Homo sapiens: one gene and its partner. The protein of the gene in region 1 purifies or fractionates together with the protein of each later gene. This does not show direct contact. Each region holds a gene or a part of one and is shown on either strand. Other genes may lie near its edges.

Region 1 (7,538 bases):
GCCGAATCAAGAGGAGACAGGGAGCTGCTCCCTGATACAATCTGGGGACGATCTCAGTCGAGTCACATCATTGACACACCAAACCACTGGAAAACTAACACAGACAATGACGCACACGGTTAAACGTCAGACCCCACCATACAGGCTGTGGTTACTGGTAAGTTTTTGGCTGGACAGGGAGCCAGGCAGGGGAGGCTACAGGCAGCTTTGCAGAGGAAAGTGTGGCAGGACAGGCTGGATGTCAGGAAAACCTGAATTCCGAGTCTGACCTGACAGACTTTGGGCACACGCAACTTTTCAAAGCCTCAGTTTCCGGTGAGACTCCTGCTTCTGGGAAGACGGAGTAGACATCCTCCCTATTCTTCTTCTAAGTAAACTAAAAATCCTGGACATCATCTGTAAAACAAGATGACTCTGAAAGATGGAGAGAAGGCAGACTGGCTTGGGTCCTTGGGACCCCAGGAACAACACGGGGGCAAGTCCTCTAGATTTTCATTTTGCCTCATAGATCCCATACTTGGAGCTGAAGACACAGTCAATTGGAAATCTCAACGGGTGCAGACAAAAAAAGAAACTCCAACAAAGCCTGCTGTCTCTGCCCAAAGGACCACGATAGAGGCCTGGCAAGAGAGAAAATGTTCCGACAGTAATCACTCTACATCAGCCAAATAACACAGAAAAAACTACGGCCCCACCTCCACCCACATGGGCAAAGGCTGGATGGAGCTGAGGCTCCCACTCCCACCCAGCAGCAAACACAGGGTGGGGTCGGGGGGAGCCATGTGGGGAGCAGTGCTGAGGCCTTCCCAGCCGGGGGGCACCAGTAGAGGCCGGGGGGCTGGAACTCCCATCCTTTCCTCGGGGGCCCATGGGGGCCAGAGGCTGAGTGGGGAGCCTGGACTTCCATCCTCACCTGGCAGTAAGGAGGCTGCGTGGCCCTTCCCCTGCCAGGGCGCCATTCAAGAAAGCCAGCTAAGACCGAAGGTTTAAATAAAAACCAGTGTTTCAGCACGTAATGCCCCAAATGCGCAGGTTCAAACAGAAAATCACTCCTAGTACCAAGGGCCAGGACGGGTCACACTAAATGAACAAAGATGATCAACAGATGCCAAGACCTGGATGAGAGATGGCAGTATCATCTGACAAGGACTTCAGAGCAGCTGCCATGACAGAGAGCCTAAGAAAATAAACACAAGACGTAAAGAAGAACCAAATGAAAATTCTGGAACTGAAAAACAGAACAACTCGAAGAAAAACTGGAATGACGGAATCAGGACTCCCCCACAAACACAGAAACAACCCTTCGCAGCCTGGCCACACACATCATTCCACAACACATAGGACTCCCCCACAAACACAGAAACAACCCTTCGCAGCCTGGCCACACACATCATTCCACAACACATAGGACTCCCCCACAAACACAGAAACAACCCTTCGCAGCCTGGCCACACACATCATTCCACAACACATAGGACTCCCCCACAAACACAGAAACAACCCTTCGCAGCCTGGCCACACACATCATTCCACAACACATAGGACTCCCCCACAAACACAGAAACAACCCTTCGCAGCCTGGCCACACACATCATTCCACAACACATAGGACTCCCCCACAAACACAGAAACAACCCTTCGCAGCCTGGCCACACACATCATTCCACAACACATAGGACTCCCCCACAAACACAGAAACAACCCTTCGCAGCCTGGCCACACACATCATTCCACAACACATAGGACTCCCCCACAAACACAGAAACAACCCTTCGCAGCCTGGCCACACACATCATTCCACAACACATAGGACTCCCCCACAAACACAGAAACAACCCTTCGCAGCCTGGCCACACACATCATTCCACAACACATAGGACTCCCCCACAAACACAGAAACAATCCTTTGCAGCCTGGTCACAAACATCATTCCATAATACATAAAACTAATTCTACAGCACGGCCACGTGGGGATTGCTCCAGAGACAAAAGACGGGTTCAATATTCAAAAATCAATGCAATCTAACACATTACTAAGCTGATGAAGAAAAATCACGATTCCATCAATTGAAACCAAAAAAAAACGGACCAAATTCAACACCTATTCATGAAAAACAGGAATACAGGGGAGCTTCCTTGACTTGATAAACAGCATCTACGGAAAACCTGCAGCTGACACTGTACTTAGCTGGGAGAGGCTGAGTGTGTTCTCTCTCAGGTCAGGGACCGTCCAACAGAGTCCCAGAAGCTCCAGCTAGTGCCGGAAGGCAAGACAAGAAATCAAAGGCAAACAGGCTGGAAAGAAGAAATACAACTAAAGTCTTACTCCTTATTAACAAAATTAACTCAAATGGGTAAGGGCTTAAATGTAAAATGTAAAACTAAAACTTTAGGAAGAAAAAACCTTCAGGATCTAGAGCTAGGCAGAATTCTTAGACTTTCCACAAAAAGCATGGTTCATAAAAGGAAACGATGATAAGCTGCCCTTCATCAAAATTACAACTTTTACACTGCAAATGCCCCTATGAAGAGAATGAAAAGACAGGCTACAGACTGGGAGAGGATACTTGCAAGCCACATATGCAACTAAGGACTAGAATCTAAGACATATTAACAACTCTCAAAACTCAACATTAAAAAACAAACAGTCCTATTAGGAAACGGCTGAAAGGCAAGAATACTCATTTCATCAGGAGGATACGCTGATGGCAATGAGCACGTGAAGAGGTGCTCGACATCACACCCTGGAGCCACGATGAGAAAAGATGCTCAACACTGCACAGTAGAGCCACGATGAGACAGCACCACACACCCATCAGGATGGGGCAGACGGGACAGCAGTGTGAGCACGCTGATGCTCGACATCGCACACTGCAGCCACGATGAGACAGCACCACACACCCATCAGGATGGGGCAGACGGGACAGCAATGTGAGCACGCTGAGATGCTCGACATTGCACACTGCAGCCACGACGAGACAGCACCACACACCCATCAGGATGGGGCAGACGGGACAGCAGTGTGAGCACACTGATGCTCGACATCGCACACTGCAGCCACGACGAGACAGCACCACACACCCATCAGGATGGGGCAGACGGGACAGCACTGTGAGCACGCTGATGCTCGACATCGCACACTGCAGCCACGATGAGACAGCACCACACACCCATCAGGATGGGGCAGACGGGACAGCAGTGTGAGCACGCTGATGCTCGACATCACACACTGCAGCCACGATGAGACAGCACCACACACCCATCACGATGGGGCAGACGGGACAGCAGTGTGAGCACGCTGATGCTCGACATCGAATACTGCAGCCACGATGAGACAGCACCACACACCCATCACGATGGGGCAGACGGGACAGCAGTGTGAGCACGCTGATGCTCGACATCGCACACTGCAGCCATGACGAGACAGCACCACACACCCATCATGATGGGGCAGACTGGACAGCAGTGTGAGCACACTGATGCTCGACATCGCACACTGCAGCCACGACGAGACAGCACCACACACCCATCAGGATGGGGCAGACGGGACAGCAGTGTGAGCACGCTGATGCTCGACATCGCACACTGCAGCCACAATGAGACAGCACCACACACCCATCAGGATGGGGCAGACGGGACAGCAATGTGAGCACGCTGAGATGCTCGACATTGCACACTGCAGCCACGACGAGACAGCACCACACACCCATCAGGATGGGGCAGACGGGACAGCAGTGTGAGCACACTGATGCTCGACATCGCACACTGCAGCCACGACGAGACAGCACCACACACCCATCAGGATGGGGCAGACGGGACAGCAGTGTGAGCACACTGATGCTCGACATCGCACACTGCAGCCACGACGAGACAGCACCACACACCCATCAGGATGGGGCAGACGGGACAGCAGTGTGAGCACGCTGATGCTCGACATCGCACACTGCAGCCACGATGAGACAGCACCACACACCCATCAGGATGGGGCAGACGGGACAGCAATGTGAGCACGCTGAGATGCTCGACATCGCACACTGCAGCCACGACGAGACAGCACCACACACCCATCAGGATGGGGCAGACGGGACAGCAGTGTGAGCACACTGATGCTCGACATCGCACACTGCAGCCACGACGAGACAGCACCACACACCCATCAGGATGGGGCAGACGGGACAGCAGTGTGAGCACACTGATGCTCGACATCGCACACTGCAGCCACGACGAGACAGCACCACACACCCATCAGGATGGGGCAGACGGGACAGCAATGTGAGCACGCTGATGCTCGACATCGCACACTGCAGCCACGATGAGACAGCACCACACACCCATCAGGATGGGGCAGACGGGACAGCAGTGTGAGCACGCTGATGCTCGACATCACACACTGCAGCCACGATGAGACAGCACCACACACCCATCACGATGGGGCAGACGGGACAGCAGTGTGAGCACGCTGATGCTCGACATCGAATACTGCAGCCACGATGAGACAGCACCACACACCCATCACGATGGGGCAGACGGGACAGCAATGTGAGCACGCTGATGCTCGACATCGCACACTGCAGCCATGACGAGACAGCACCACACACCCATCATGATGGGGCAGACTGGACAGCAATGTGAGCACGCTGAGATGCTCGACATTGCACACTGCAGCCACGATGAGACAGCACCACACACCCATCAGGATGGGGCAGACGGGACAGCAATGTGAGCACGCTGAGATGCTCGACATTGCACACTGCAGCCACGACGAGACAGCACCACACACCCATCAGGATGGGGCAGACGGGACAGCAGTGTGAGCACGCTGATGCTTGACATCGCACACTGCAGCCACGATGAGACAGCACCACACACCCATCAGGATGGGGCAGACGGGACAGCAGTGTGAGCACGCTGATGCTCGACATCGCACACTGCAGCCACGATGAGACAGCACCACACACCCATCAGGATGGGGCAGACGGGACAGCAATGTGAGCATGCTGAGATGCTCGACATTGCACACTGCAGCCACGATGAGACAGCACCACACACCCATCAGGATGGGGCAGACGGGACAGCAATGTGAGCACGCTGAGATGCTCGACATTGCACACTGCAGCCACGACGAGACAGCACCACACACCCATCAGGATGGGGCAGACGGGACAGCAGTGTGAGCACGCTGATGCTTGACATCGCACACTGCAGCCACGATGAGACAGCACCACACACCCATCAGGATGGGGCAGACGGGACAGCAGTGTGAGCACGCTGATGCTCGACATCGCACACTGCAGCCACGATGAGACAGCACCACACACCCATCACGATGGGGCAGACGGGACAGCAGTGTGAGCACACTGATGCTCGACATCGAATACTGCAGCCACGACGAGACAGCACCACACACCCATCAGGATGGGGCAGACGGGACAGCAGTGTGAGCACACTGATGCTCGACATCGCACACTGCAGCCACGACGAGACAGCACCACACACCCATCACGATGGGGCAGACGGGACAGCAGTGTGAGCACGCTGATGCTCGACATCGCACACTGCAGCCATGACGAGACAGCACCACACACCCATCATGATGGGGCAGACTGGACAGCAGTGTGAGCACACTGATGCTTGACATCGCACACTGCAGCCACGACGAGACAGCACCACACACCCATCAGGATGGGGCAGACGGGACAGCAGTGTGAGCACGCTGATGCTCGACATCGCACACTGCAGCCACGACGAGACAGCACCACACACCCATCAGGATGGGGCAGACGGGACAGCAGTGTGAGCACGCTGATGCTCGACATTGCACGCTGCAGCCACGATGAGACAGCACCACACACCCATCAGGATGGGGCAGACGGGACAGCAGTGAAACACCAAATACTGACCAGGTGGAGAAACCGATCAGCTCTGCATTGCTGGTGAGAACCTAAAACGGTGCAGCAACTCGGGAAACATTTCAGCCCTTCTTAAAAAACTAAACGTGCAACCTCCATAAAACCCAGTAATTTCACTTCTGGCCCTTTATCCGAGAGAAATGAAAACTTACATCGACACAAAAACCTACACAAGAATGTTTATAAGAGCTTTATTCATAACAGCTGAAAACTGGAAAGGACCCAGATGTCTTTCAGTGGTTAAACACACTGTGGTACGTCCATGTCATAAAACACGACTCAGCAATGAAACTATCTATGAACTACTGATACAGCAACAATCTGCATGGACCTCAGGGGGTTATGCTGAATGAAAAAAGTCAACCCGAAAGGTTATATACTGTTTGATTCCATTTACATAACATTCTTGAAATGACAAAGTTCTGGAGATGAAGAACAGATCAGTAGCTGCCGGGGGCTATGGAGGGAGGGGCGGTACACAGGGCAGCACGTGAGGCCCCAGGGATTGGGGTATCTTGACCGCATCCTGGCAGATGTCTTGGCTGTGACACTGCACTATCGTTTTGCAGATGCTTCCACTGGGGAAAGCTGGGTAGAGGGTACACGGGCTCTCTGCATTACTGATGACAACTGCATGTGATTTACATGACCCCAAAATAAAATATTTAATTAAAAGAAACTGAGTTGGGCCCAGTGAACTCAACCAGTCCCTTTCAGCTCTAAAACTATGTTTTCTGGGTCAGGGGAGGAAACAGGAGGTACAGGAACACTAGAGGGGAGAAAGCACGGAGAGATGGGAAAAGCACGGAGAGAGAGATGGGGAAAGGGCAATCAAGAAGACTGAGAGAAAAGGGGGGAAGCAGAATGACAGAGGAGGTGTGAAGAGAGAGAAGCCCTCTGGAGTGCTGAAATACTGAATATTCTCCCCTGGGAGCTACTCAGGGTAAGAATTTCTCCAGGGACTGCTCTTTCGGGCAAGCACAATTACACACATTTCTATGTTATGTTAAGTAAAAATCTAGTAAATGGGCTGGGCACGGTGGCTCACACCTGTAACCCCAGCACTTTGGGAGGCCGAGGCGGGCAGATCATGAGGTCAGGAGATCGAGACCATCCTGGCCAATGTGGTGAAACCCCGTCTCTACTAAAAATACAAAAATTAGCTGGACGTGGTGAGGGGCGCCTGTAATCCCAGCTACTCGGGAGGCTGAGGCAGGAGAATCACTAGAACCAGGGAGTCAGAGGTTGCAGCAAGCCGAGATCGCGCCACTGCACTCCAGCCTGGCGACAGGGCAAGACTCCGTCTCGAAAAAAAAAAAAAATTCTAGTAAATGAAGCGAGTGATCAGGACAAAACTAGCCTCTCATCAATAAATCAACCAATAGCGCTTATCAAGTATTCATATGTCTGCCTCTTCTTCTAGACTACACTAGGGGCTGGTTAACGCTCCTATGTGCAACAGAACCTCAAACACATCGTAACACACCTTTGGAGAATCCTTACAAGAACACCAACTTAACAGTTCTCTCTGACCACACTACCTCAGCAAAAAACCAGGAAGAAAAAAATATTCTTCAACCCTTTTCAGGGACAGAAAGCATCATTTCAAAAGTCCAAGAAGGGAAGGTA
Region 2 (7,538 bases), on another chromosome or scaffold:
ACCTCTAATTGAAATAGGCATGGCTACGCAGTTTTTCATGTTCCACATTTATTATTTTGATGGTTCCAAATATTTTCTTTTTTTTTGAGACAGTCTCACTCTGTCGCCAGGCTGGAGTGCAGTGGCGCTCTCTCGGCTCACTGCAACCTCCTCCTCCCGGGTTCAAGCAATTCCTCCATATCAGCCTCCCAAGTAGCTGGGGCTACAGGCATGTGCCACCACACTCAGCTAATTTTTTGTATTTTTAGTAGAGACGGGCATCTCACCATGTTTGCCAGACTGGTCTTGAACACCTGACCTCAAGTGATCTGCCCGCCTTGGCTTCCCAAAGAGCTGGAATTACAAGTGTGAGCCACCACACCCAGGTGGTTCCATAATATTTCATAATGTACTCAACCACTGAGATTGTTTGGAAAATTCTGGTAAGAAAATGGAAATCGAAATTCTTATGCAAACCTCACTGATCCTCTTTTTTGGAATGATTCCTCAAGGCACATTCTTAGGCTTTGGGTTTTCTTTGGCCAAGGGTTAGAAAAGTTTTATGTGTTGCTAAATTGCTTACAAAAAGGTCTGTATTAATCTACACTCTGAATCATTAAAATCGGATCTCTGACTTTAAATTATGCTTAAGTGTGCAATATACAAACAGTAGCCTCCACAAAGGATATTCTTCTCATATTACCTATTAGTGAAAACAGATGTCATGTACTTACTGTTCTGAATGCCATAAATTTCATCAATGAGTCCTTCATATGTCAGCTGAGTGGCAAGAGGTGTTAATAAATCCACATTCCGATCAAGCAACAAGAGATTATCAAAAACAGGAAATATTGAATTCTGGCTTCCTGTAAACTCTCTCTTCATCCTGATCATCATATTGGCCACTTGCTGGAAACAAAACATTGGATGAGGTGGGGCCCCCCTGGGAACAAGCAGATTTTAAAATTTGTCTAAAACCAGAAAGACAATCAAAAAAGTAAAAAAGGAGAAAAACTGGAAGAGTGCATTGCTTAGAAATAAGCAGCTCTAGAAAAGCACCTTGCTGTTGGCACCCATCCCGACACTTGCACCAAGGCAGCTGCCATTTGCCAATGAGGCATAAAATCAGGTCAGTCTATTCTTGTGATTCGCAGTAGTTATGTTCTATGAAGTCACTGCAAACACTAAATTAGCGAAGATGGAACCACTGTTCCTAGGAGAAACGCAGACTTAGGTTCCTGGGAGCCTCTGGTCTCAACGTTTCTGTCAATTGATCAATACGTAACCCAGTTTTATATGTGTTTCTGCTTAAAGATGCCTGACTTAACATAATTGTTGATCACTCACACTGAACTGACAGCCAGCAGCTCTGTGACTCGTGCCTGAACGAAGCGTCTCTGACACACGTAATGTCTCCGCCAGGCACACCACAGCCTTCTTGTGCACAAGACACCCGACTGCACCTCAGTCCTACATTTGCAGGCCATTTTAAACAGTGAAATCACCAAAAAAAGTACACACGTGTGGAAAATATGACAGTGAGACTGTGAAAAGTACACTTGTTTGCAGTCTGAGAGCTGAAATGGGAAGGTGGAGTGTCAGCTGCCTCAGTTGGGAACATGCGCAGTGGTTACTCAAACTGTCACCACTGTGCACGCCGACAAAAGCACCATGAGTACTGACTTGGAGGGTTATAAGTGCATTTTAATCAGTAGGCAAATTCATGAGTACAGTATTCATAAATAATTAAGATCAACTGAATTTGTTTGTAAGGAGCTTCCCGTTCCTCCTCCCTTTTGGGGTGTGAAGGGCCCTCCTTTACCACCACAAAGCAGCCGGTTCTCACCCGAGCGCATTCTCCTTTCCCAAAGATCTGGGGGATCGTTCCATACAGAGCTTGCAGGGTCATCAGCCCCTTGGCTGCGTGGTACAGGCTCGTCTGGTCACCCTCCAGGTAGCACTCCTGTGAGGGAAAAGGCCAATTATTGCCAGGCCATGGGGGCCTCCCAGGGGCCCATCTCTGTTCCTGGGGCTGGGGTGCAGCGACAGACAATAAAATCATTTCCAGTTATTTCACACTGTGCCAGGAAAATTGGGGACTCAAGTTCATTTTCCAAAACTGCTGCCTGTCAGACCAGGCGCTGAGGCTGGCAGCCCCAGGGTGGGTGCAGCCGTGGAAGCACCTCTCCTGGGCAGAGCCGGGGCTTCTGGGAGAAAACTGTTCACCCAGCATGCCAGCTCTTCTGAATCAGCTCTTAAATAAAAGACGGAAGAATACAGACTTACACTGAACGATGGGTTCCCATTCACTGGTGAGAGTAAACTCTGGTAGGACATGCTGGGAGAGCGACATGCTAATACCCAGAAATGCAAAAGACCACAGGACGAATACTTTATTGTTTTCAAAAAGGATGAGGCAGATTTTCATGACAACTGACAACTGAAGGCCACAATCTGTTGAGTATGATCTCATTTTATAAAAAATATATATTTTTGCATTGAAAAAAGGACCTCCAACTCAGCAAACTATCACAAGGACAAAAAAACAAACACCGCATGTTCTCACTCATAGGTGGGAATTGAACAATGAGAACACTTGGACACAGGAAGGGGAACATCACACACCAGGGCCTGTCGTGGGGTGGGGGAAGGGGGGAGGGATAGCATTAGGAGATATACCTAATGTAAATGATGAGTTAATGGGTGCAGCACACCAACATGGCACATGTATACATATGTAACAAACCTGCATGTTGTGCACATGTACCCTAGAACTTAAAGTATAAAAAAAAAAAAAAGAAAAAAGAATCTCCAAAATACACACAAAACCACCTGGGAAGGCTAGGTGCAGTGGCTCATGGCTGTAATCACAGCACTTTGGGAGGCTGAGATAGGAGGATTGCTTGAGCTCTTGAGTTTGAGACCAGACTGGGCAACATAGTGAGACCCTGTATCTATAAAAAATTAAATAATTAGCCAGGGATAGTAGCATGCATCTGTATCTGAGCTACTCAGGAGGGTAAGGCAGGAGGATCACCGGAGCCCAGGGATTTGAGGCTGCAATGAGCTATGTTCGCACCGCCACACTCCCCTCTGGGCAACAGAGCAAGACCCCATCTCTTTTTTTATTTTTATTTTTATTTTTTTTTTGAGATGGAGTCTCGCTCTGTCGCCCTGGCTGGAGTGCAGTGGCGCGATCTCGGCTCACTGCAAGCTCCACCTACTGGGTTCACACCATTCTCCTGCCTCAGCCTCCCAAGTAGCTGGGACTACAGGCGCCCGCCACCACGCCTGGCTAATTTTTTTGTATTTCTTAGTAGAGACGGGGTTTCACCATGTTAGCCCTGATGGTCTCGATCTCCTGACCTCGTGATCCGCCCACCTCGGCCTCCCAAAGTGCTGGGATTACAGGCGTGAGCCACCGCGCCCAGCCGACCCCATCTCTTTAAAAAAAAAAGAGAGAGAGAAAAAAACCACCTGTGAGGTGAGAGGAGGGAAGCAGTCACTTTTGATACAGGTGGATCAAAACACAGGTTCTAGACTCAGATTGCCTTGTTCTGAATCCAACTGTGTCACTTACTAGCTGTGCCCTGGGCCAGTTAGAGAATCTCTTTGTGCCTCAATTTATTCATATGTAGAAGGGAGTATAGTCCACATAGGGCAAGTATTAAATGAGAAAAATACATGTAAAGCATTTAATCCCAGTACCTGAAACATACAGCAAATGCTCAGTAACAGTTAGCTTTTATTTGGAATTATTTAGGTTTTTTTACAACCATTATCCACTCATAAGTCAATATGGTACATTTTATCAATTCCCTCCACCCCTACCAACCCAACATGTCCCTGCTGTCCACAGCCAGAACTGAGGGGGCCCTGAGGGTCCAGGGCCTGAGGAAGAGAGAGCGGGGTTGTCACTTGTCAGGCCCTCTGCCCCAGGGAGGAAGGATGGCAGACATGGTGGGGAGCGTTTGGTTATTATTGAGAGTGTCGCCGGACTACTCTTTCAAGTGTGGTATATTTTAACGTTTCCCTGAATATGGCAGACCATCGAGAATATGTCAAAAGACACGCTTTTTGGCAAAACCACTTAAAACTCCAGATCAGATGAACGTTCAAGGGCAAAAGACATTGAGGGCTGGGTGCGGTGGCTCACGCCTGTAATCCCAGCACTTTGGGAGGCTGAGCGGGGAGGATCATGAGGTCGGGAGTTCTAGACCAGCCTGACCAAAATGGTGAAACCCCTTCTCTACTAAAAATACAAAAATTAGCCAGGTGTGGTGGCATGTGCCTGTAATCCCAGCTACTCAGGTGACTGAGGCAGCAGAATCACTTGAACTCAGGAGGTGGAGGTTGCAGTGAGCTGAGATTGTGCCACTGCACTCCAGCCGGGGCAACAGAGCAAGACTGTCTCAAAAAAAAAAAAAAAAAAGACATTAAGGAACTCCTCTCCAAATAGCATTCATATTTTACTTAATTTTTTTAAGTTGTACTACTACAAAGACATCTCTTTTACAATATTTTTTAAAAGATGTAAAAGTTAACAACAGATTTTAATCTTGGTTGTTTTTCCTTTTTTGAGACAGAGTCTTGCTCTATCACCCAGGCTGGAGTGCAGTCGGGCAACCTCAGCTCACTGCAACCTACACCTCCCGAGTTCAAGTGATTCTCCTGCCTCAGCCTCCTGAGTAGCTGGGATCATAGGTGCCCACCACCATGCCTGGCTAAGTTTTTGTGTTTTTAATAGAGATGGGGTTTCACCACGTTGCCGAGGCTGGTCTCGAACCCCTAACCTCAGGTGATCCGTCTGCCTTGGCCGCCCAAAGTGCCACCACACCCAGCCCAATACCCTTAACATTTAAATGCGCATTTTTTTAACCCCAAAGTCTCACATACCCACACAGCAGAATACCTTGCAGAATACCATACAAGAGGCAGGTTTTATATATGCTGATTTTTATATATACGCGTAAAGGCCACAGTACCTTAAGCAATGTTATTGAGCATTTGACTGGGCAGAACTCTAATTCCCACATTTTACACAGAACAATGACATAGATGGTCACAACTGTAACTCAAAACACAGAGAGATCTAGATGTACCTCCTGAAGCCAATCACAGAAATACGATTAACGTCATCTCCACCAAAAATCGGGGCTGACTTTAACATTAGGCTCTTAGGTCGAAGCTCTTAGCTGTGCCATCCGGATAAAGTCCTTTCTTTTTCTTTCTGCCACTTCCTCTAACTCCCCCAATCCACCCCCCCGCCTTTTTTTTTTTTTTTGAGATAGGCTCTCGCTCTGTTGCCCAGGCTGGAGTACAGTGGTGCAATCTTGGCTCACTGCAACCCCTGCCTCCTGGGCTCAAGTGATTCTCCTGCCTCAGTCTGCGAAGTAGCTGGGATTACAGGCATGCACCACCACACCCAGCTAATTTTAATTTTGTTTTATTTTTAGTAGAGATGGAGTTTTGCTATGTTGCCCAGCCTGGTCTCGAACTACTGACCATAGATGATCCGCCCACCTCAGCCTCCCAAAGTGCTGGCAGGTAGGAGCCACCATGTCCGGCCAAAACAGCATCTTAGGTGAATATACAAAGCCAAAGGCTTGAAATTGTCAGTAGAAAATAGTTCTGGCCAGGCGCGGTGGCTCACGCCTGTAATCCCAGCACTTTGGGAGGCTGAGGCGGTGGATCGCCTGAGGTCAGGAGTTCGAGACCAGCTTGGGCCACATGGTGAAACCCTGTCTCTACCAAAAACACAAAAAATTAGCCAGTGTGGTGGCTGGCGCCTGTAGTCCCAGCTACTCAGGAGGCTGAGGCAGGAGAATCACTTGAACCCAGGAGGTGGAGGCTGCAATGAGACGAGATGGCACCAACGCACTCCAGCCTAGGCGGCAGAGTGAAACTCAGTTTCAAGGAAAAAAAAAAAAAAAAGAAAATAGTTCTGCCCTTTCTTACAAATCATAAGTAAAATAAACAGGTTATTTCTCCTCTGCACAGATTTTGTCACTCCAAGAGAGTTTGCTTCGGCTGCTACCAATTCCCATTAAATACACAAATATGGATTAATTAAAAATGAGTATACCATCACAGGTATGTGATAAAGCACATATAGAAAACTGTTAATCCAGAAGATAAGTGGTGGATAGACAGGTGTTCACTGTACAATTCAATTTTTTGGTATATTGAAATTTTCCTATAAAATGTTAGAAGGAAATCTATATTACCATCAGGTAGGATTTCGTGTAAGCAAACCACTAGGGAACAAGGTACAAAAGAGCCAAGAGGGTTGGGCGCAATGGCCCACGCCTGTAATCCCAGCACTCTGGGAGGCCGAGATGAGCAGATCATGAGGTCAGGAGTTCGAGACCAGCCTGGCCAACATGGTGAAACCCCGTCTCTACTAAAAATACAAAAAATTAGCCAGGTGCAGTGGCGGGCACCTGTAATTCCAACTACTCGGGAGGCTGAGGCAGGAGAATCGCTTGAACCTGGGAGGCGGAGGTTGCAGTGAGCCGAGATTGCGCCACACAGCACTCCAGCCTGGGGAACAAGAGTGAGACTCCGTCTCAAAAAAAAAAAAAAAAAAAAAAAAAGCCAAGAAAGTCCCCTGGTTATAGGATTAGTCGGTGGTGCCACTGACTTCTACTGCCCCAGATTAACTTTTTTATTTTTCGCTTTTTCTGTGGCCGGGTCTCACTCTGTCACCCAGGCAGGAGTGCACTGGTGTGATCACAGCGCCCTGCAGCCTCAACCTCCTGGGCTCAAGTGATCCTTCTGCCTCAGCCTCCTGAGTTACTGGAATGACAGGTGCACATCACCACGTGTGGCTAGTTTTTTGTAAAGACAGGGCCTCACTCTGTTGCCCAGGCTGGTCTCGAACTCCTGGCCTTAAGTGATCCTCCCACCTTGGTCTCCCAAAGTGCTGGGATTACGGGCATGAACCACTGTGCCTGGCCTATTTTATTTTTTTAAATAAGTTTCATTTTTCCCCCTTTTGTGAAAACTGTCAACAAATTAACTCTTTTAACGAGGTGATCTCTGTAACAACACAATGGGGAAAAAAAGATTCCAATAATTTTATGTACTATACCAGCGGTTCCCTAAAGTTCTAGTCTCTACCTTCGAAGTATTTTATTGGTAAGAAGAAAAAAAGGCCAGGCACAGTGGCTCACACCTGCAGTCCCAGCAGTTTGGGAGGCTGAGGCAGGCAGATCTCTTGAGGTCAGGAGTTCGAGACCAGCCTGGCCAACATGGTGAAACCCCATCTCCACTACAAATACAAAAATTAGCCTGGCGTGGTGGCGCGTTCCTGTAATCCCAGCTACTCGGATAGCTAAGACGGGAGAATTGCTTGAACTGGGGAGGTGGAAGTTGCGGTGAGACGAGATTGTGCCACTGCATCCCAGCCTGGGTGACTGAGTGAGAATCTGTCTCAAAAACAATTAAAAAAAAAAAAGTTCTAGTCTCCAGAGCAGCAGCAGCGGCACCAGCAGCAGCAGCATCATAAACTCATAAATCAAAGAAACATGGGTAAGTGTGATTATGTTAAAAACATA

What was found.
Region 2: the proteins of CCDC127 (region 1) and VPS33A purify together in Homo sapiens (co-immunoprecipitation; 2 studies listed by BioGRID and IntAct, with this or other methods). This does not show direct contact.

The regions. Positions count from the first base shown.
Region 1 is NC_000005.10:207,811-215,348, forward strand, and holds part of CCDC127 (coiled-coil domain-containing protein 127), read right to left. Parts: intron 1-7,538.
Region 2 is NC_000012.12:122,249,158-122,256,695, forward strand, and holds part of VPS33A (vacuolar protein sorting-associated protein 33A), read right to left. Parts: intron 4,387-7,538; coding exon of another isoform or gene 4,309-4,386; exon of another isoform or gene 3,705-4,308; intron 1,943-3,704; coding exon 1,826-1,942; intron 889-1,825; coding exon 714-888; intron 1-713.